Linked DNA regions of Homo sapiens. The protein of the gene in region 1 interacts with the protein of each later gene in a biochemical or structural test. Each region holds a gene or a part of one and is shown in the gene's direction. Other genes may lie near its edges.

Evidence for each region.
Region 2: the proteins of TMEM178B (region 1) and DLG3 interact in a test that uses a peptide from one of them, tested with the Homo sapiens proteins (one large-scale study listed by IntAct).
Region 3: the proteins of TMEM178B (region 1) and GOPC interact in a test that uses a peptide from one of them, tested with the Homo sapiens proteins (one large-scale study listed by IntAct).
Region 4: the proteins of TMEM178B (region 1) and SYNJ2BP interact in a test that uses a peptide from one of them, tested with the Homo sapiens proteins (one large-scale study listed by IntAct).
Region 5: the proteins of TMEM178B (region 1) and DLG5 interact in a test that uses a peptide from one of them, tested with the Homo sapiens proteins (one large-scale study listed by IntAct).
Region 6: the proteins of TMEM178B (region 1) and PATJ interact in a test that uses a peptide from one of them, tested with the Homo sapiens proteins (one large-scale study listed by IntAct).
Region 7: the proteins of TMEM178B (region 1) and APBA1 interact in a test that uses a peptide from one of them, tested with the Homo sapiens proteins (one large-scale study listed by IntAct).

The regions. Positions count from the first base shown.
Region 1 is NC_000007.14:141,077,064-141,080,563, forward strand, and holds part of TMEM178B (transmembrane protein 178B precursor), read left to right. Parts: intron 1-3,500.
Region 2 is NC_000023.11:70,489,835-70,493,334, forward strand, and holds part of DLG3 (disks large homolog 3), read left to right. Parts: intron 1-2,272; coding exon 2,273-2,449; intron 2,450-2,686; coding exon 2,687-2,762; intron 2,763-3,500. UniProt on the Homo sapiens protein: Required for learning most likely through its role in synaptic plasticity following NMDA receptor signaling.
Region 3 is NC_000006.12:117,562,141-117,564,511, reverse strand, and holds part of GOPC (Golgi-associated PDZ and coiled-coil motif-containing protein), read left to right. Parts: intron 1-1,127; coding exon 1,128-1,258; 3' UTR 1,259-2,371.
Region 4 is NC_000014.9:70,372,091-70,375,590, reverse strand, and holds part of SYNJ2BP (synaptojanin-2-binding protein), read left to right. Parts: intron 1-2,459; coding exon 2,460-2,600; 3' UTR 2,601-3,500. Other genes in the region: SYNJ2BP-COX16 protein, read left to right, coding at 2,460-2,558. UniProt on the Homo sapiens protein: Regulates endocytosis of activin type 2 receptor kinases through the Ral/RALBP1-dependent pathway and may be involved in suppression of activin-induced signal transduction.
Region 5 is NC_000010.11:77,920,256-77,923,755, reverse strand, and holds part of DLG5 (disks large homolog 5), read left to right. Parts: intron 1-3,500. UniProt on the Homo sapiens protein: Acts as a regulator of the Hippo signaling pathway.
Region 6 is NC_000001.11:61,759,480-61,762,979, forward strand, and holds part of PATJ (inaD-like protein), read left to right. Parts: intron 1-3,378; 5' UTR 3,379-3,413; coding exon 3,414-3,435; intron 3,436-3,500.
Region 7 is NC_000009.12:69,427,032-69,429,201, reverse strand, and holds the end of APBA1 (amyloid-beta A4 precursor protein-binding family A member 1), read left to right. Parts: 3' UTR 1-1,670; downstream 1,671-2,170. UniProt on the Homo sapiens protein: Putative function in synaptic vesicle exocytosis by binding to Munc18-1, an essential component of the synaptic vesicle exocytotic machinery. May modulate processing of the amyloid-beta precursor protein (APP) and hence formation of APP-beta.

The DNA.
Region 1 (3,500 bases):
AGAATTCACAAGCAATTCCAATAACATATAGAACACAATTTTTACACTTAGTGTTCCTCTTAGATGGGCAGATTTTATAAGGAAGTTAAAAAGAGAAACTGATATCCCTATATTTAAATGAGACATTTTAGAAAAAGATGTTTATCTCACATTATTCATTAGAAACCGCAAAAGAGATCTCAGACCTCTGTCTTCTTTGAAATATCTACTTTGATTAAAATTCTGGAAGATATGTAATGGGCAAGGGAAAAAGAAAACCAGAGAAAAGACTTTAAAATCCGTTAATATATAGGAAAATTAGAGACTTATCTAAATGATCTAAAGAACTTAGTTATTTGTTAAATCGATGTTCATTACATTAGAAAGTGCTATTTGTGCATTTCAACATAAAACCACATAATTAATAAGAAAACGAACATCAAATCTATGTCTGATTTGAAGGTAAAGTCCTCTGGATTCATATTCATTCTGAAATCCATTCCCCTCCAGGACCTTCTGCCATGCTGTACCCACACGTATGCATTTCTCATCACTGTGTATTCATTTGTTTGCATTATTAAACTGTAAGTTCCTAGAGGTCAGGAAAGACCATCATTTGTTAAATACATTCACCAGATGCTTGGTATTTGGGAAATATTTCATACAAATTAGGTTCACAGAAATGTATCCATCCAAGCTTATTCTAATTATAGAAACACTTGTGTGAGAATTTAAGTAAAAAATTAGAAAATCGTGATGGGAAAATATGAAACAGTGTGGCTGTCAGGCCAGGTCAATATTGCAACAAATGCTACATAATCTATGAAGGGACGATTTCTTGAGCTTTGCCAAAGAATAAGGAAAACAGACAATTCTGTTTTGGATAACATGTCACTAAGCAGACACATATCACTTGTGGACATTATTTTTTATGATGGATAAGGTTTTAATTATTTCCTTCTTGGGGGTAAGATTGGATATAGGGTACAGCAAGGGTAGATTACCCTGAATTCCCATTTGTTGGCATCCATGACAAGTCTTAAATCAGGTCCTTTTGTCTTCTTGCTTTTAAATCTCATCCATGTCTCCCTAGTAAGTGACTGCAGGCACTGGGGACAGATCAGTGACAAGATCAGTTTCTGAAATCCAAGAGACTTCCAGACCCTTAGGAGGAGGAGTTATAGGTAGGATTTTGTTCTAGGGAACTCTAAGGGGAAAATTATATTATTTGGTTTGTACTAAAATATTATATTGATATAGTTTGAAATAAGTAGAACTTCAACTGATACTCTAAGAACTTTTTATTATTTGAAAATTGGCCTTATAATAGACTTTGACTTAAAGAGTTCCCATAATCACAGAGTGGTTGTCAATACTCCAAAAGTAATTTTAAGAAAACATTCACATATTTAAAAATTAATAATGGGATCAGCAAATATTTACTACACATGTATTGTGTTATGGGCACACATCGCTAGGATGAAGAAATGCATAAGATCTGGTCCTCAGAATTTGCATAGTCTGTTAGTGTCAGAGAAAATAGGTTACAACTACAGGATGATGAGAGCAGCAACAGAAACAGATGCAGAGGAACACAGAGAAAGTGATGGTGGATTGTGTCGGCAGTAGCGGGAGGTAGGCAGGAGGAGGTTAGGGAAAGTTGTCCTGAGGAAATGAAATCTGAACAAGATGTTTGATAAGGTTTGGAGGTGGATGTGGAGGAAGGATATTTCAGGCAATGGGCCAGCATATGCACAGCCATAGAGGTGTGGAACAGCAGTTTGGCCTTGTGAGTGTTGATTTCTGGGGCAAGGAGAAGGAGCAGACCAGGAGCTGGAGAGCAGCCATGGACCAAGTCAGGGAGCTCGTATATCAAATCCCCTACAGCTATGCTGCCCAGTTGGGGAGCCACAACCCACATGTGGCTGTTCAAGTTAACAATAACCAAAGTTAAATAAAATAGGCTGGGCACAGTGGTTCACGCCTGTAATCCCAGCACTTTGGGAGGCCGAGGCAGGTGAATCACTTGAGTTCAGGAGTTCGAGACCAGCCTCGCCAACATGGTGAAAACCCATCTCTAGTAAAAATACAAAAATTAGCTGGGCATGGTGGTGTGTGTCTGTAATGCCAGCTACTCAGGAGGCTGAGGCAGGAGAATCGCTTGAACCTAGGAGGTAGAGGTTGCGGTGATCTGGTATCATGCCGTTGCACTCCAGCCTGGGTGACAGAGCGAGACTCTGTCTCAAAAAACAAACAAACAAAAATTATTTCCGTAGTTGTATTGGCCACATTTCAAATGTTCAGTAGCCGTATGTGCCTACTGGCTATTGTATGGGACAGTGCAGATTACAGTGAACATTCCCACCATCGGAGAAAATTCTGTTGGACAGCGCCACGCAGAGCCTATAGCCTCTAAAAGAACCAAGCACATAACTTTGTTTCAGATGAGTATAATTCCATGATAACTTGGGTTTAAATTTAAGTATATCATTCTACACTTTAAGAAACTGCTACTTGAATATATTGGGCAGAAGGCTTTAGTTCATGGTCAATTATAGTAAATTTATATTTTAATTTTCTATCATCAACTCACAGAATTCTCACAAGCTTCTCCCTTCTTCCCTCCTGCCCTCTCCATCTCCATTAAACATCACTTGCAAAGTTGGTGGGGTGGGAAAGAGATTAATGATAATTATAGCCAATCTTGATGACAGGTCTCTCCTAAAAGTTTTATATGTATTAGCTAATTTATTGTTCATAATAACCCTAGGAAGTATAAGTATTATTTTAAATTCTCATCCTAAATTTGAGGGAACTGAGGCACAGAAAGGTCAGATAACTTGTGAATTCTCACAGTTAGTTAGGAAACAAAGGTGTCAGAATTTGAATTCTGGCTCTGGATGTGGGAACTCACCCACCACACTCTACCATCATCTTAGAATCTATCGGGGCAGGAGTGAGGTGGAGAAGAAACTGGGATATTGATTCCACAAATTGAGAATAAAAAGGAAATAATACTCTTGGAATCTCAATTCTAAATTGAAGTAATGAGAGTGGCTCACACACCCTGTTTTGAAGCTCACTGACCAAAGTGCATACACATTTTGTCATATAACTTTTGCTTATTTACTTCGCTTGCTGTGGTAGATGCTGAAATTATAGACATGAAGGACACATTCATTCATTCAACAAGTATTTATTGAGGGCCTTTGGGCTGTGCATCAGGTACAGTGTTGGACCAAATGGAGAAGCTTACATTCCAGAGGGGAGAGACGGACAATAAATAAATACTCCACGGCTGGGCACGGTGGCGCACGCCTGTAATCCCAGAATTTTGGGAGGCTGAGGAGGGCGGATTACGAGGTCAAGAGATTGAGACCATCCTGGCCAACATGGTTGAAACCCTGTGTCTACAGAAAATACAAAAATTAGCTGGGTGTGGTGGCGCATGCCTGTAATCCCAGCTACTCGAGAGGCTGAGGCAGGAGAATGGCTTGAATCCAGGAAGCGGAGGTTGCAGT
Region 2 (3,500 bases), on another chromosome or scaffold:
TAACTCCCCTAATTCATTTTATTTTATTTATTTATTATTTATTTTTTAGACAGAGTCTCGCTCTGTCACCCAGGCTGGAGTGCAGTGGCGCAATCTCGGCTCACTGCAACCTCTGCCTCCCAGGTTGAAGCAATTCTCCTGCCTCAGCCTCCCGAGTAGCTGAAATTACAGGTGCCCGCTACCATGCCCGGCCAATTTTTGTATTTTTAGCAGAGACGGGGTTTTGCCATGTTGGCCAGGCTGGTCTCGAACTCCTGACCTCAAGTGATCTGCCTGCCTCAGCCTCCCAAATTGTTAGGATTACAGACGTGAGCCACCGCGCCCGGCCTCCTAAATTCATTTTAACATCTTCCTTCCTTCTCTCACCAAACTAATTTGTGCTTAATTCAAGTTCTGTTCTTTTCCTTACTATATTTGTTCTAATCTTTGAAACCCATAATGACATCCAGTGTTTCTCATTGTCACTGAGAATGAGGTTGCTTCATGATGCTCTTCTTAGTAGGAGTGGCTGACAGAATGTCTTCCTTGCTTTAGGAAATGCAGGACTCAGGCAGTGAGAATGCATTCAGTTTTGATTCTGTCACACATAGCCCGGAATGCACCTCTCGGACAGCACCTCCTTGTCTGCTGCCTCTGCCATTCTCCTTACTGCTTTGAGTGTGTAAATTGAGGGGAAAAAAGGGCTTTTTGTTAGAGTTTGGGTATTTTCATTTTCAAATCATCTGACGCTGATTTTTAAGAACTCTGTTTCAAGAGCTGTAAGCAGTAGGTGAGTATTTCACTCTTCATGGTTTTACTACATCCTATCTCATTTGGGCTTGCATATGGTAAGATAGTGTGTTTTACTTGCAGCTTCCAACTGAGCCAAAGGCCACAGTATTGCAGGTAGAAGTCAAAGTCTTGGAACTAGATTTTGGGCTGTGTGTGCAAAGGTGTGAAAACACCTTATTAACAGAGAATATGAAGAAGACAGCCTAGATTGCAGGTAGAAAAATACAAACTTCTCACTGAAATCACCCATTTGTGGTGACTCCATATGAAGACAGGTTCCACTGGATGTGAAAAGTAGAAACTTTTTTTTTGGCTTTTTTTTTTTGAGACAGAGTCTTGCTCTGTCGCTTAGGCTGGGGTGCAGTGTCGTAATCTTGGCTCACTGTAACCTCCACCTCTCAAGTTCAAGTGATTCTCCTGCCTCAGCCTCCCGAGTAGCTGGGACTGCAGGCATGCAACATCACACCCAGCTAATTTTTGTAGTTTTAGTAGAGATGGGGTTTCACCATATTGGCCAGGCTGCTCTTGAACTCCTGACCTCAGGTGATCCACCCGCCTCAGCCTCCCAAAGTGCTGGGATTACAGGCGTGAGCCTCTGCGCCCGACCTCCTAAGGCTCTTTTGATGTGTCACTCCTCTCAGATTTCCAGGGGCCACTAGATCTTGTCTATTCAAGGGCTTCCAAAATTTGCTTCAGACCTTTATTTCCAATACCATTTCCTAGGACTTCTAGCATCAGCCAAGCTGGTGTCCTTTTCCATAAGCCTGGATTGTATAGCTCCCTCCCCACCTTCTCCCACCTTCCCTTTTATTTCTTTACTCTGCATCATTTATAGCATGTCACAACAGCATGTCTTGTCAGAAGACCTGGGTTTTGTCCCAGGTTGGTTAGATGTATGACCTAGGTCAAACTATTTTTTCCTCCCTGAACCTCTGTTTCCCCATATGTAAGAGAAAGAGACCGCACTAGGTGACTTCTATGGTCCCATTGGTCTTTTCAACCCTACCATTCTGTGCTTTTTCTTTGGCTGCCCGAGGACATAGGGCCCTTTCTTTAGTGCTTCAGGAGTGTTTACCAGTCATTGTTTGGGATTGTAGTTAACATTTTTTGTCCTCTCTTTAGCTACTTTTTGAAGATATGTTTGTGAACTGAGAAAGCGCCCTGCTAGAGCTAGTTTCCTAGGATGTGGGTGAGGGAGAGGGCTATTGAGCGAGTTCTACTTTGGACTTTTATCTTGCATCCAGAAGCCAAGAGGAGATGGGGTTTGTAAAATATTTTCTCTTATGCTTCTTATTGGGAGAATGAGATGTTTCTTTGAAAGCGGGTGCATATTTACCACTTTGGCTCAGAAAGAAGGATGTGGTCTCCTGGAGACATCCTTCTAGTATACTGTGAGGCTGCTATGTCTGTGCTGTTTGGGTTGGCCTTCCATCTTTTCAAGGTGCCAGTGTCTTGGCATTTAGGGTTGGATGATCACTTCATCTTTCACTGTGCCTTTCAGGGCCCTGTTTGATTATGATCGGACTCGGGACAGCTGCCTGCCAAGCCAGGGGCTCAGCTTCTCTTATGGTGACATTCTGCATGTCATTAATGCCTCTGATGATGAGTGGTGGCAGGCAAGGCTGGTGACCCCACACGGAGAAAGTGAGCAGATCGGTGTGATCCCCAGTAAGAAGAGGTGAGTCGTCATGATCATGAGCAAGGCCTTTCCTGCCCTCTTGCTGGTATTTCTTTCTTGTTTTCCTATTAGAAGTTGCTTGAGAGCAACGTTTGTGCCTTGATTCCTTTTTGGTAGAGTCGGTACTCAACATGGTTTTTACTCAGTGAGCCAAAAAAATGGCTGCTGTGCCTGCTGCAACCCACTGCTGAGACCATTTACTGGCAGTAACAGGACTTCTTTCTGATTCCAAAACAGGGTGGAAAAGAAAGAAAGAGCTCGATTGAAAACTGTGAAGTTCCATGCCAGGACGGGGATGATTGAGTCTAACAGGGTAAGTGGGGATCCCCAAGGAAATCAGCCAGTAGGTAAAGAGGGTTGAGAAGCCTGGAGTTTAGTCTGATGTGTAGGAGAACTGGGGAACACAAAAGAAAATCTCTTTTTCAGGGGGCTGGCTCTGTCCTATCAGAACATTGACTGCTTTTCAGAAAGCAGAGAGGGAGCTCTTAAAGTTCACAGCCAGTCTGTGCTCCTTTCCCCTGGGTACCGGCTCTTGAAGATGTGTTAGAGTTGGACTGTCTGGAAGGCTGACTTGCTTGGGGAAAATGAAACCACTCGTGGGTGTCTCCCTGGCTATAGATCCTGTCAGAGCATCCGGCCAAGAAGCCCAGCTCCAGAGCTCCCACCTCCCTTCAGACCACCTGAGGCAGGCGGGTTCTCCATTCACCCCTTTTTTTCTATGAGCTTCACAGGCCAAAGAACTTCTGGAGCAGTAGAGGGAAGAGAGACGTGGAGTAGATGTGTATATCAGTGGTACCTTAGGGCATGTGTCCAGGAGGCTACAGTGACCTTTGTTCTTTAGGAAGTACCAGTGAGTGTTATGAGTGTCTGGATTATGTAGAAACTTCTAACATCCCTACAACATTTTCTTGTAAACATAATTTTCCTCTTACATCAACTTTCATTTAATCTCATAGACTCCATTTGTGAGAGATGGTCTTTTATTTAGCTCACCGTTGTCTCCATTTTAGTTTTTCTTGCATGCTTTAAAATCCATTGTTCTGTTTTTTTT
Region 3 (2,371 bases), on another chromosome or scaffold:
AAGCCTATTATTTATTTTATAGATGATCAGAATTCGTTTTAAGTTTTAGCTAGACATCATCTTGCCAACAAATTACATTTTAAGCAATTAACTAGTATATGCCTCAGTTAACTGAAGTTAATGTAATATGAAAGCAACAATGAAAAATAAAAATATAATTCACAGTTCAGTAGATATTTATATAAGTAGAATTGACTGAATTTTACAATTATATGTATTACTTCTAAGTCTTACAGACAGCTTGATGGTGGCTCATGCCTGTAATTCAAGCACTTTGGGAGGCCAAGGCAGGAGGATCGCTTGAGGCCAGGAGTTACCAACCTGGGCAACATAGTGAACCCTGTCTCTTCAAAAAAATTTTTAAAATATAGCTGGACATGGTGGCACATGCTTGTAGCTCCAGCTACTCAGGAGGCTGAGGTGGAAGGATTGCTTGAGCCTAGGAGGTCAAGGCAGCAGTGAGCCGTAATCATGCCACTGCAATCCAGCCTGGGCAATAGAGTGAGACCCTGTCTCAGAAAAAAAAAAGAAAAAAAAAAAAGGAAAGGAAAACTTGATAGGAAACTTAATACAATTTTTACATAAGCCCAATATAGTATTTTTAAATCTGTACAATATTTGATACCTGCCATAAGAGGGAAGAATTCCCCTGTTAGGAATTACTGATTTGATTAATATAAGGCATTATTTTTGCCTCAGATTACTAATGTTAATTACTTGGGCATTCCTTTGTTTTTCACTCAATAAACTTATACAACTAACTTTTTTTTTTTTTTTAATTTTTTTAATCGAGACAGAGTTTCACTCTGTCACCCAGGCTAGAGTGCGGTGGTACGATCTCAGCTCACTGCAACCTCCACTTCCTGGCTTCAAGTGATTCTCCTTCCTCAGTCTCCCAAATAGCTGGGATTACAGGCATGTGCCACCATGCCCGGCGAATTTTTGTATTTTTAATAGAGACGGGGTTTCACCACATTGTCCAGGCTGGTCTCGAACCCCTAACCTCAGGTTATCCACCCACCTTGGCCTCTCAAAGTGCTGGGATTACAGGTATGAGCCACTGCACCTGACCAAAACCAACTTTTTAAACCAGAAAGTGTCTGCTTTTTTTTTCTCCTTTCTTTCAGGATTTAATAAGAAGGCAGTAACTGACACACATGAAAATGGAGACCTGGGCACTGCAAGTGAAACTCCGCTAGATGACGGTGCTTCAAAATTAGATGATCTGCACACTCTGTATCATAAAAAATCTTATTAAATTGACCATATCTCCAGACAAGATTGTTAATCAGACTATTCTGAATTTGGGGCACTGGGGAAGATGGTGACAAAGACTACAAAATCAGGGGAGGCTGTTTGTTGCCTAAATGAAAGGCGGGTACCTCAGGGCTTCATGTGAACAATTCTCAATGCATAAAACACCCTGTTTTCTGTGGTAGACCATAATTAGCTATTGCATGTAAAGCAATTTTGATTTTCTTGAACTTGTAAGCACCAAAGCATGTGTTTCCCAAAGGGGTATTACTGGGCTCTTAAGTACCAAATGAAACCCTACTGTTTTACTTGGTTCCTTTTCCCTTTAGTAGGAGGACAGTGCTAACTGGAATTTTATAAGGAGTACCCTTTAAAATACAGAGAGTAAGTGAATTCATATTTTATATTCTAGAATGTTAACTGTGGTATTTCAGAAGACAGAGCTTGACTCAATGAATTGTAGAAATATAGGCTTGACTTAATTTTTGTAACTGAAAGGCTTTAGACTTAAAAAAATTTATTGTGCATCCTAAAATCTAAACCAATTATTAATGATCATTTATTGTAATGAGTTTGCATTTCAGCTTTATTCAATGCAGTACAAAATAGTTTTCTTTAAGCAGTCTTTTATCAATCAATGCTGCACTAGAAATAGATTCTCAAAAGTTACTAAACATTTTACTTTTTTTGTTTTTTAAAAGAAATGCAGATGAGTGTAAAACATCTGTTCTCAATTATGTTGATCTGTGTGCGCAGTACTGGAGCATTTACCCATTCATGTTGAGCCTCAAATGCTTGTTTTCTGGGGTCCACAAAAGACAGTTTTATACATTTTGAGTTGTTCATAAAGTTTGTCTTGTGATAGTCCTGGCACTTAAAGACAAATTTTTCTGGTAGTAAAAGTTCAGATTTATTACTATGTCATGAAACACAGTACATTCAAATCAAACGGCAGTTTTCTTTCTAAGTAAATGATTTCCAGTCATCTAAAAGGTGGGCAAGATGAGATAAAGACATTTTGATACAGTAATTGTTTTGGTTGGGTTTTCATGTCAGTTTATGTTTGACTAAAGCTCTCTTCATATGCAGGTTTATAAATTTGTTAGGTCTGTTGTCC
Region 4 (3,500 bases), on another chromosome or scaffold:
TGCTTTTTGTTTTACCCTCACTCCCCTGAAGAGTTTCTCAGGCAAAGGGAGGGGTCCATTGGTACTTCTGCTTATCATTGAAGGACATTCAGGCCAGGCACGGTGGCTCACACCTGTAATCCCAACACTTTGGGAGGCCAAGGTGGGCGGATCACTTCAGGCCAGGAGTTCGAGACCAGCCTGGCCAACATAGCAAAACCTCATCTCTACTAAAAATACAAAAAATTCAGGCACGGTGGTGCACACCTGTAGTCTCAGCTACTTGGGATGCTAAGGTGGGAGGATTGCTTGAGCCCAGGAGGTAGAGGTTGCAGTGAGCCAAGATCATACCACTATACTCCAGCCTGGGCAAGAGAGTGAGACCCTGTCTCAAAAAAAAAAAAAAGAAAAAAAGAGAAAAAAAAGAGAAATTCACAACAGTATGGCTTATAACCAAGGTCCTTGCTTCAAGATAATATGCCTTAAAGATAAAGCTTGACAACCAAATTAAAACAGATGATTAAAGAAAAGCCAGGTGTGGTGACTCACATCTGTACTCTTAGCACTTTGGGAGGCCAAGGTGGTATGATTGCTTGAGCCCGGGAGTTCAAGACCAGCCTGGGCAACATAGAGAGACCTCATCTCTTAAAAAAATAATAATAAAAATAAATAAAAAATTTTAAGAGTGACATGGACCAATGGAAAATAAATAAATTAATTAATTAAAAAGATGGTAAAAAAACGTAGCCAATTTTACTTTTTGGTAGGGAAGGAACCATATGTCTACCGCTGAAAACTTATTTATAAAACCATTGGATAAAACACTACAAAGATGGTGGGTTTTCTGGTACCCACTATATGCTTTTCCCTGTCACTGCCATGAACCCTTCATTTATCAACTTGGTGACCCTCTTAACCAAATCTTTAGTGTTCATAGGAGAACTCCAGGAAAAAGGAAATGGAATTCAGAATTCAGTCAAGGCAGCACCTATCCCTGCATCTGTTTCTTATTTCCAAGTGTTTTATAATTTGGATGATGATGTAAAGGGAAGCCTGGGTAGATATAATTCCTCCTATAGCATTGAGAATTTCTGAGCATATTCACAAAACAGGTTCCATGTGCCTTTAAATTAAATCAATTTGCTACTTCTTAAATAGGTGCACTCTTCCTCACTCAGTGGCTAAGGATTTAGAAGCTTAAGAACATTTAGAGGAGTTCCTAAAAAAGTAGAGAAGGCAGAACGTGAAAGATACCTGAGAAAACAACCAGTTGCAAGCAGAATCTGGGTGTAATGGATTAGAAAACAGGTTAATAAGAGATAATATTGGTCATCAGTTGCTTCTGCCTTGGCTCTTCTCTTTCTAAAGCATGGGAGCATTTGTGCAGTAGATAAAAACAAGTAAATATAGGGACACACTTCAATATGATTACAATTCTTTTGGAAGGTATGTGAGAAGTTATTTCCAGTGTTCACTTTTAAGGAAACATCCATAAATAATTCCTAATAAAAAAGACCCTTATGTTCAGGCAATTGGCCTAGCCCTAAAAACCATGCCTTCTTATTGAGCATGTCCTTTCAGGACAGCTCATCAGCAAATGAATGAAAAACATAGAGGTGGAATAGAGGGTATAATGGTATTTCATGCAGTCTTGCCTTTCAGATTGAAGTGTCAGTTTTATGAGTTGTAATGAGGCAGTTTAACTGAAATACGATGATGCCATAATTATTGCAAGTTAGCCACTAAAAGTTGATATTAAGAAGAGCTACCCTGAAAACCATCACTAAAATGAAGACCATCCAGCCTCAAAAGGAAACACTTAGCCAATAGAAAATTATAAGCACTAGGATATAATTTCTTTTTGCTTTTTTACATCTGTTCCATATAGATTCACCTTCATCTCTCTCTAGTATTAGAAATGAGCAGATGAAGGGCAAAACCCCATCTTTGGAGGGAGTTGGGTGCCTTCTGGGATCTGGAAAGCATTTTTCAAGTAATGGCATTGGACGTATGTTGGTATTGCACCTATGTTGACATTGCCCACATCTGCTCTTACTACATTTTGATGACTGATTATCTAAGTAAACATTTCCAGAAAGATCCCCCTTCTTCCTCACCAAGTAATATCCAAGTTCCCTATAAGATCATAGGTTTTATCTCATGTCTTCATTTTCCTGATACGATACACAAATAGCAAGGTAGAGGCAGTACAGAAACAGAAATTACCTGACTTGCCCTCACGGGTCCCTTTAGGTCAGCAAGGTTAAATGCCTCCCCATTAGACCTATTTTCTTTCCAAAGATCCTGTGACACTGATGCATCAGCTCAGGACAAAGAGAGGACTCCTTCTGCTAGGTATTGCTGGGGGTTACAGTTTTGGGTGGTCTAGAGTCTACAAACCCAGGTGATGTATCAACCTGGGCGTTTCAGTTGCAAACACACATTAGTCACTAGAGTTAACATTTTTCTTTCCCTTCCAGTTACAGGTGCAGAATGGACCTATAGGACATCGAGGTGAAGGGGACCCAAGTGGTATTCCCATATTTATGGTGCTGGTGCCAGTGTTTGCCCTCACCATGGTAGCAGCCTGGGCTTTCATGAGATACCGGCAACAACTTTGAAAAACTTGCTCTCTTTCAATACTCCCAATGAAGATACATTTCACTCACCCTCCACCCCTGCTATTCTGCCATGTCTTTCCCTCTCTCTGCATAGCCAGATTTGAAGTGACTGATACCCACCCCAAACCTTGCTGTTCACAGTCTCCAATTCTTCATATTCTAATGGGAAAGTAAAGGTATTGTTTGAAGGAAAACTGAAGAAAAGACTTGGCTTAGAACAAATGAGGAGTTATATATTTTACTAGGACTTTTGATAGAAATTCAGCTACAACCCAAAGAGAGAAAGATTGAGTCTTCCTGTCACCATAGGCAATACCTTTTTTCTTAGCTGGCATGCCATAAAGGCCAGCTATGTGATATTAGAGGAAGAAAGGATTTTTCTTTTTAATGATCTTCCTTGGGAAATTATTGTGGCCTTTATTTAATTTCTAACTACGTACCTGGGTGCCTATATCGACAAAGAGTGAGAAGAGCATTTTTACTTTTTTAAAAAAGCAAATACATATATACACATACGTATGCAAATATTATAGTATAATAGTGATCCCTATGGAGAATTAAAGGTGAGAAAGCTACTTTGTGGTGTCTAGGTTTCTGATAAAAGGGATGATCTTAACTGAAGAATTTAAAGAGATACTTAAACAGAGCAAATGTAGTAGGAACAAGGGAGTGAGCCTTATAAGAGGACGTTCAGTCTCATTTATTAAAATAATAACTGAGACTGGGAGAGGTGGCTCATGCCTGTAAATCCCAGCACTTTGGTAGCCTGAAGTGGGAGATTGCTTGAGTCCAGGAGACCAGCCTGGGCAACATAGCAAAACCTCATCTCTATTTAAAAAAAAAATAGAAAAAAATGTAATAACTGAAGCAACTAATTAAAAATCTTAGAAGAACAATATT
Region 5 (3,500 bases), on another chromosome or scaffold:
GACAGGGTCTCACTGTGTCACCCAGGCTGGAGTGCAGTGGCACAATCTCGGCTCACTGCAGCCTCCGCCTCCTGGTCTCAAGCCATCCTCCTGCCTCAGCCCCGCAAGTAGCTGGGACCACAGGCACATGCCACCACACCAGCTAATTTTTGTATATTGTGTAGAGATGGCATTTCTCCATGTTGTCTAGGATGGTCTCGAACTCCTGAGCTCAAGCGATCTGCTTGCCTCAGCCTCCCAAAAGTGTTGGGATTACAGGCGTGAGCCACTGCCCCGGCGCAGGGGAGGCTCCTTTGTGAAGGGTAAATTGCTGTGTTGTAGGTCTCCACTTTTTTGCTTTTTTTTCTTTTAGCCAGGAAGTATTCCTTATGGTCAAAGCTCAGTGCATAAGAGAGCGGCTCTGGCTGAAGGAATGGAAGTCTTCTTCCTTGAGGAGCCATAGTCAGGAAAACCCAGCACTTGGTCCTGCCTCCTTCCACTCCTGAGTGATTTCCACTCTGTGCTCTGGGCAGCAGCTCTGGGTTTGAATTGGCCTCAGTTCGAGGCCATTGCGGAGCCTGAGAGAGGAACCAGCTGGCTCCCTGGGATCCTTAGCGTCAAGGGGTGGCTGCTTTGGCACCGATTCTCTGTTGGAGATGATGCCATCACCCACCTAGGAGCTTCCTTGATGGATTCCACACCCTGTGTGGGCTCCTGATCCAGAATGCCCATCCCCCACTGGCACTTGGGTGCTGAGGGAGTCTGCATCGGCAGCAGCCTACCACGTGGGGCCTGGAACTGGAAGGAAACTGGGGAGGACATGTGCCTGGGTGTTGGTGGGCAGGTGAGCAAACCCAACCCATCGGGGCAACTCTTGCTGAGTTAGATCCCCAGACATTTAAACCTACCACGCTCAGGCCTGGGGGTGTGGAGTGACTAGGAGACACACTGTGTTGTGGTTTTTTTGTTGGAGGTGTGGCTCTTATTCCGGTATTGATAGGGCATTGTCATTCAGGATTTTGTGTCCTATCTTCATATCTCATTAACTCTGTGGCAGCCCCAGGGAGATGAGTGGTGTCTTATGATCTTTGGTTCCAGGGCCCTGTCTGTAAGGAAGAAGTCGCAGGGCAGAAAGGTGCCTGAGTCAAGGCCAAGCCCAGTGCCCCTGATTCCTTGTCTGGGGTGGTTTTTCCTGTTCCCTGGTTAGGCCTTCCCACTACAATTTCAGGACATTTCCAGTCACTGTGGGACTCTGAAATTATGTAGCTTTCTTTTGTCCCGGATTTGATACATGGATCTGCGGGGAACAAGCGAACACCTTTGCCCCAGCTGGTGGTAGGGAGAAGACAGAATTGTTTACTTCTGAGTGGCTCAGTTGGGTCTCTTGTTTTTCCCAGTAACCAAGTCTAGCTTGGTCACTTGGAGCCCCATGCAGTCCTTTGTTTTTTCCCTTTGATTTGGGGAAACACCTGAGTTTTTTCCCTTGAGGATTCTCAACTCCCTGCCCCTGGGGTGAGCCTCAGTATCTTCATCTGTAAGATGGGGCTAATGGTGCTGCACTGCCTGCCTCTGTCACCGGGAGCATTGAAGTGCCTGGCCCAGGTGGGGCTGGGGTGTAGACAGGGGCCGGGGTGCACAGGATGTAATTCTAGTCCGTAGCTTGCCGCCTTGTTGGGGGAATGGGACGCTCATGAGAGTGACATTATGAGACAGGTCAACTGATAGAGATGCACAAACAGGCTTTTTCTTTTATAAAAAACTCGGTATGCTACACACTTTCCCCAGATACTCTCATTCACCTTTAGTGGCTCTCATTACCATCTAAATGTGGGACTCCTCAAGTCATTCCCACCAGGCCTCTATTGGGAGGCAGAAATGGCAGAACTTGGCTGGACCTCTCGCGTGCTCATTGCCTGATGTTTCCTTCTCGTTCCCACTCCCCACACCTCCTGTGCCTCCTCTTTACTTTCCTAGTGAACTGGCTGGCTTGCTTCATCAAACTTAAGAGAATGGAGCCAGCAGCGTCCGCTGGAGAAGCCGAGGAGAGCTTCACGAATGTGCTGGGACTTGGTGTTGAAGTGAAGCTCTGAATGCATGGAGCCATGGAGGGAGGACGTGTGGGCTGCGTAGGCTGGACCGCACAGGCTGAGCCATAGAGAGGAGCCATGTGTTTACCCAGCCTGAGCAGAGCAGGGGTTTGGCCTTGGCTCTGGGTGGAAGGGAATTGGGGATGCAGAGGTAATCTGGAGGACCTTAATGGCTAGGCTGAGTGGGAGGTTTGAATTTAGGCATTGTACACTGTCAGAAATTAGAGCTGGAAGTTTGTTTTTTTTCCCCAAGGGAATAACCCTGCCAGGCTTTTCTAGTGGGACTAATGCAGATGGGTGCTGATTGTCAGGTGTGGGTTATTTATTATTCAGCAGAGGTTGCCTGGCCTTTTGTTCTCTCTCCACTTCCTTCGGGTACCAGCCACCTTTTCTTCATCCCCTCTGCCCTGGAGGGTCAGCAGGGCAAGGGACATAAGTAAAAGCTCCAGCTGTTGTGGTTTTTCTTTTGGTTCTTTTGTTTGTTTATTTACTTATTTTTTAGAGACAGTGGAGTGCAGTGGTGCAATCATAGCTCACTGCAGCCTCAAACTCCTGGGCTCAAGCCATCCTCCTGCCTCAGCCTCCTTAGTAGCTAAGATTACAGGCGCATGCCACCCTGCATGGCTAATTTAGGTGGTTTTAATTGTGTTATTTAAGAGGAAGTGGCAGAGTCATTTGAAATTAATGGTTGAGAAGAGGTTTTTAAGTGAAGGGCAGATTTTATCTGTGTATCATTTCAGGGTACCTTTATTGCAAAATGACAGAAACTTAGCTCAGATCATCTTAGGTAGAAAAAGAGAAATGTATTGACTTAGAATATTCCACAACCTTTGGATGGATGGTGGAAACTGGCCTTTGGGACGTTTGACCTCTTGGATCGATGCTGTGGGCTTTTCCCACGGGTCTGAACATGACCTCAGGCCCCTCTGTTCAGGTTCACAGCCCCTGACCAGGGAAGAAAGGGAGCTCTATCCAATCAGCCCAGGCAGACAAACCTCATGGTAGGATTCTGATTGGTCTGGCCAGTGTTATGTGTCCACATGAGGCCCGGTCACTGTGGCCAGGGCTAGAGGACTAAGACTGGCTCAGCTTTGGCACTGTGCCCAGCAGTGGAACCCCAGGGTAAGGTGATGGGCTACTGTGATTGGCAGCCCATTCCAACACTATGTGGGTTTTTAGAGGGAGGCAGAGCAGTTGTCTAAAGGAAGACAAGCAGCAGCGATGTCACGCAGGTAAAAGAGCAGATGAATGTCCACTCCAAGCATTACCACCTTTGTGCGATAATACAGTTAGCACAGGCGGTCATTGCTGGAGTGGGATGGTGGGTCTAGGTAGTAATGATCAGACCTTACAAGGTTTTAGACCTTGAGCAAGGTTTTTAACCCTTCTGAGCTTATCTCCTCTACAAAGTAATTAAAACACTAACTACTTCAC
Region 6 (3,500 bases), on another chromosome or scaffold:
GCTCACTGAAACCTCCACCTCCTGCGTTCAAGTGATTCTCTTGCCTCAGCCTCCCAAGTAGCTGGGATTATAGGCGTCTGCCACCACGCCCAGCAAATTTTTGTGTTTTTAGTACACAAGGTTTCACCATGTTGTTCAGGCTGGTCTCGAGCTCCTGACCTCAAGTGATCCGCCTACCTTGGCCTCCCAAAGTGGTGGGATTACTGGCGTGAGCCACAGCGCCCGGGCTGATCGCTTTTGATAATTTACTTTTTCCAGGAGTTTTGCTATTAAAAATGTGGTAAATACCCTTGCACACACATCTTTGTCCCCCTTTGCCAGTTTTTCTTTCAGAGTGACACTCAGAAGTAAAAATTGTACACTCTTAGGACAACTTAGCAGTGTCAGTATACATTGTGTAAATTTTTATTTCCACCTATTTTTTCATGACATTTGGAGTATAAACTATTATTAATCTCTAATAAATCAATAAATGTCAGTTGAGATTTGGCAGTAAAAAAATGTCATCTTATTGTTTTAGTTTGCATTCTTCGATTTAGAGAGGTTGATGTGTTAATGACCAGCAGGCCGCTCTTGTCAATCCTGTTGGGCTGTATGCTGCTATATGAGAGTACAGTGCTGTCATGACTGCCCTTTTGTTATTCACAGTTACCTGTCACTGGGTAGTTGTAAGAGTTGTACAGTTGAGATGCTGAGCACATCAGAAGTGTTTTTTTGATGCTCTATTCAGCACTTCTTTTGGTATTCCCATTGAATCCAGTGAACATTTGGATGGAATACTTAGACCTTTTATCAATGTCAATGGCATCCGTTATTGGTTTTCAATATGTTTTTTTGCTTAATGATCTTGAATTAGAAGATAAAGATGTCATTCAGCCACCATATCCAGGTTGATGTAAGAAAATTTTGATTGTATAATACTTGTATTTCTTTGATGGTTCATTACAAGTGTGTATCACTAGTAAAAATGATCACTGAAAATGTCTCATTTTGGTCATAGCAAAGGGTTTTGCTAGCCTTTTGAGTTTTTAATTACGTTACATTTTAGATTAATTTCATCAAATCACTGGAATTAAGAAAACATTATCCATAGAGAATGCCACTTTGAGTGGTTTCTTTTTTCTTTTCTTTTTCTTTTTCTTTTTTTTTTTTTTTGAGACAGAGTCTGGCTTTATTGCCTAGGCTGGAGTGCAGTGGCATGAGCTCAGCTCACTGCAACCTCCACCTCCCAGGTTCAAGCAATTCTCCTGCCTCAGCCTCCCGAGTAGCTGGAATTATGGGTGAGTGCCACCACGCCTAATTTTTGTATTTTTATTAGAGACGGGGTTTCTCTGTGTTGGCCAGGCTGGTCTCGAATTCCTGACCTCAGGTGATCCACCCACCTCGATCTCTCCAAGTGTGGGATTACAGGTGTGAGCCGTGGCGCCCAGCCTGGGTGGTTTCTTTCAAGCTGTAGATGACTAGTAAGAGTCTGAGATCATTTGTACAGCTTGGGAATTTTTCTTTTATTTTTTGTTGAGATGGGGTCTCCCTTTGTCACCCAGGCTGGAGTGCAGTGGCATGATCATGGCTCACTGTAACCTCAACCTCCTGGGCTCAAGCGATCCTCTCACCTCAGTCTCCAGTGTAGCTGGGATTACAGGTACAAGCCACCACACCAGCTAATTTTTTTGTTTTTGTAGAGATGAGGTTTCACTTTGTTGCACAGGCTGGTCTCAAACTCCTGGATTCAAGTGATCCTTCTGCCTTGGCCTCCTAAAGTACTGGGATCACAGTGAGCCACTGCTCCTGGCCTGGTTCAATAAATTTTGATAAGTATATACATCTGTGTAAACCATACCCCCTTCAAGACACAATGTGTCCATCACTCCAAAAAAGCTTCCTTGAACCCCTTCCCAGTGTAGGGGAGGGAAAATAGCCTCTACCCTTCTAAGTTTTCGGTTGGGGCCCCTGTAATAAAGGGTAGATTAACAAGAGAAAAACATGTAAACTTGTTTAATATAAGTTTTATGTGACATGGGAGCCTTCATAAGGAAAGGAAGACCCGAAGAAACAGTAAAACCTGAGTGTTTTTAAATTAGGTTTGATGAAGAAGGAAGAGTTGTGGAATGTGATAGGACAGAAAGGGATATGAGCCAAGAGTAGTAAACAGGGAAAAACTTAACAAGGCCTGTTTGTTCATATTCCTCTGGGTGTTCCTCTATTTTTTTTTTTTTTAATTTTTGAGACAGGGTCTCACTCTGTTCCCCAGGCTGGAGTGCAGTGGCATGATCATAGCTCACTGCAGCCTCAACCTCTTGGGCTCAAGTGATCCTCCTGCCTCAGCCTCCTGAGCAGCTGGGACTATGGGTATGTGCCACCATGGGTGGCTGATTTTTGAATTTTTTTTGTAGAGATGGAATCTCACTGTGTTGCCCAGGCTGGCCTCAAACTCTGGGGCAGAAGTGATCCTCCTGCCTCGGCCTCCCAAAGTGCTGGGATTATAGGCATGAGTCAATGCGCCCGGCCACTCTGTCTTTTGAGATTAAGATGCTGCTATCTTCTGGGTATAGAGAGGACACCTCTCACATGAGGATCCTATGATCTGCTTCAGGGGAAGTCTTTTTTGCACCTGCTGTTTCTCAGATTCCTTCAACTTAAAATATTCAACAATGCCAAGGTGTCATATTTTGGGAGTAGCATGTTCTGAAGCCTGTCATAGTCAGTTCCCTATGACCCTGCCCCAGGTAAATTAATCTATAATTGTAGATTAGTTTTGTCAGTACTTGAACTTCATATGAATGTAATCATACAGTATGGTTTGTGCCTTTTTTGGGTCAGGTTTCTTTTTTTCCACATATCATTTTTGAGATTTATCCTTGTTGTGTGTATCAGTAATTTTTCCTTTTTATTTCTGAATATTATATACCATTTGTTTATTCATCTGTTACTAGACACTTGGGTTTTTCTAGTTTTGGGGTTTTTGTAAATAAAAATGCTGTAAACTTTCATGTGCAGGCGTTTTTGTGAGCATATATTTTCATGAATACTGAGTAAGTATTTGTGAGTGGAAGTGCTGGGTCATATAGTAAGTGTATTTTTAACTTTATAAGAAACTACCAATTTTCCGAAGTGGTTGTGATATTTTACGTTTCTCTTAGCAATGTACAATAATAGTTCCAGGCACTTCACAGCCTCGTTGAAACTTAGTGTTGTCTGTTTTTAAATTTTAGTTACCTTAGTGGGTGTGTAGTGGCACCTCATTGTGGTTATAATTTTGAATTTCACTGAGTGGAGCCTTGATAAAGAATGTTCTTGAGGTTTTCCTTAATTTTTCTACAGGATTGTAGCCATATACAATTGAAATTCATCTTTTATATTGTTAAATTTTTTCTTTAGGTGTCTTTAAGAGTGATTGAAGAGAATAATTCAAAATGCCTGAAAATCCTGCTACAGGTATACTGGATATATTGTTCTATAATTAAATTAATTATTTAAAAATGGAATCTCAAATGGGACTT
Region 7 (2,170 bases), on another chromosome or scaffold:
TGTTACTGGTGGTATTTCAGGCATCAGGAGCCTTGGAAAATCATCGTAGGGGCCCATGCCTGTCTGTCCCTAGGCACCTGGGCAGTGCCACAGAGGCCCGCCCACGACTGGCCAGGGGACAGAACTCCAGTAGTGCATCCCTGTACAACCTGCACATAACGGTTATGTATGTTCACCTAAAGGAGAGAATATACTTTCTATTCCTATTGCACAAAAACCTTGTAAACTTTGAGAGGTGCTGAAAAAGCCAATTCTGCAAGCTCTCCTAGAGGACTGACATTGTAACATTAGAGTGAGAAGATTTCTCTGCCACATTCTTTTGTGTTAATCCAGGTGTGTCTTCACACCCAGTGAGTGGAAGTTGCTGGAGCTCGGTACAGGTCCACCCAGCTGAAGTGGGTTCTTTTTCCCACTACCACTGGGGCAAGGGAGTGAGCCTAGGTATGGTCACCTCAGCAGCCACAGTCTTAAAAGCAAGTCGCTAGATTTTTTGAAAGTCCCAAGAGAAGTGGTGGTCTTCCCTTCTGTCATCCCAGTATATATAGTTATACATGTAAATATCTAAATACCCCATGTAATGGGAAGGCTATGTACAGGGCAGCCTTCCCAAACGCTGTGAGGGCACAGAGCTGCTGTGGCTGCTCCACCAGGGTGTGCTGGTGGCTCAGCTTTGGGGTTGGACTCCCACGTTCACCTCCCCCTCCTGGTCCAGGCAGAGGCACCAGAACCCATCCTGCCTTTTCTCCAGTGTGAGCATTTCAGGGAGCCACCATCAGCCTTGGGTTCATGAGAGGAAGAAACCCCCAAAGACCAATGCCTGGAGCCCACTTCTCCAGCGACACCTTCCCTCGCCAGAGCAGGCTCCTAGGAGTGCATGGCAGGGGTGCCGGGTCCCTGTGCACGGGTTTGCTTTCTGAACATTGCCCATCAACACCGCCTTCAGGGAGTCCCAGAGTAACCTACTACCTCCCCCATCGCTCCTCTGCCCCCCTCACCCTGTGGGCACCAACACCTCCCGCACACAGATGAAAACCATCTACAGAGCCCTTCCCGGGTCCCTCGACCCAGTGGTGTAGCCGTTACCAATGTTTACAACCAGGGGCCGCCCCTCCTTAGATGTGTTTACTCGCATTCACAGGCCACCTGTTGGTTTGAGTTTCATGTGTCTCCTTCCCTGGCCTAGGTTGACTTGAGCACACAACTCGATCTTTCTTCCCCTCCATCAAGGCAGTGTGTGAGGACTGTGTGGGAATGACATTTCTTGTACATACTTAGCACAGCACCTAGAGTATGAACTTGTACTATTGTTCTGTAAAGAGGGTGAAATAGAGCTTATTGTAAAGTGTCGGGAGAAGTATAGTATTGTATTTGTAACAATATCGTTCTTTGTATACACAAAACTCAATGATCTATATATAAATATAAATAAATATATAAATAAAATATATCTACACGTGAGCCTGGAATGTGGACACCGCACACCCACTGAATGTACTTCCTTGACAGTCTGGTCACTGGTCCCTCCCTCCCTCCCTCCTCCGTCCCGTGGCCACAGTCATCCAGTTTGGGGTTGTGATGTATTTACTGTGCTATCTATCTTCCTTTATTTAACTGAACGCTAATGTCTGTATAAGAGTTGCTGCAACAATAAACAAGAACTTCACCTCTTGGCCTGGCCAAGTGTCTTCTTGTTGCAGGGAAGGCTTGGGATCATGTGATGAGTTTGTCTTTTCCCTAACAGACTGACTGACTAGCTCCTACCCACCCTATAGGCGCCCAGAGCCCAGGAGTTCTCTAAATGAGCTTTTATTCTGTGGAACTGACTTGGTTTTAGACAAGAAAGGCTCTGTTCTCCTGTCCCAGTTGATCCTCCAGTCCTGTGGGTCTCCTTTGAGCACACTGAACTGGAGAAAGAGAAATTCTCCGGATTTCTTACTTGACATCCTCCATGAGGGCAGGAAAACAGGAATTAATTCTCCCCCACCTCAGTCATCTCCCGTAAGGGAGGTACCTTTTTGTAAGGGACTAAGATCTAAGTGGACGGTGGAAAACAGCGCCCTGAGAGGCCCATCCAAAGGTTCTGTGAGAAGGTTCTGGAAGGTTTCCTCCTGGTGCTCTTTGGAAATTCACTTTTTGAAGGTTGCCAGGCATGCCCTCCCTGCTGCCGGGG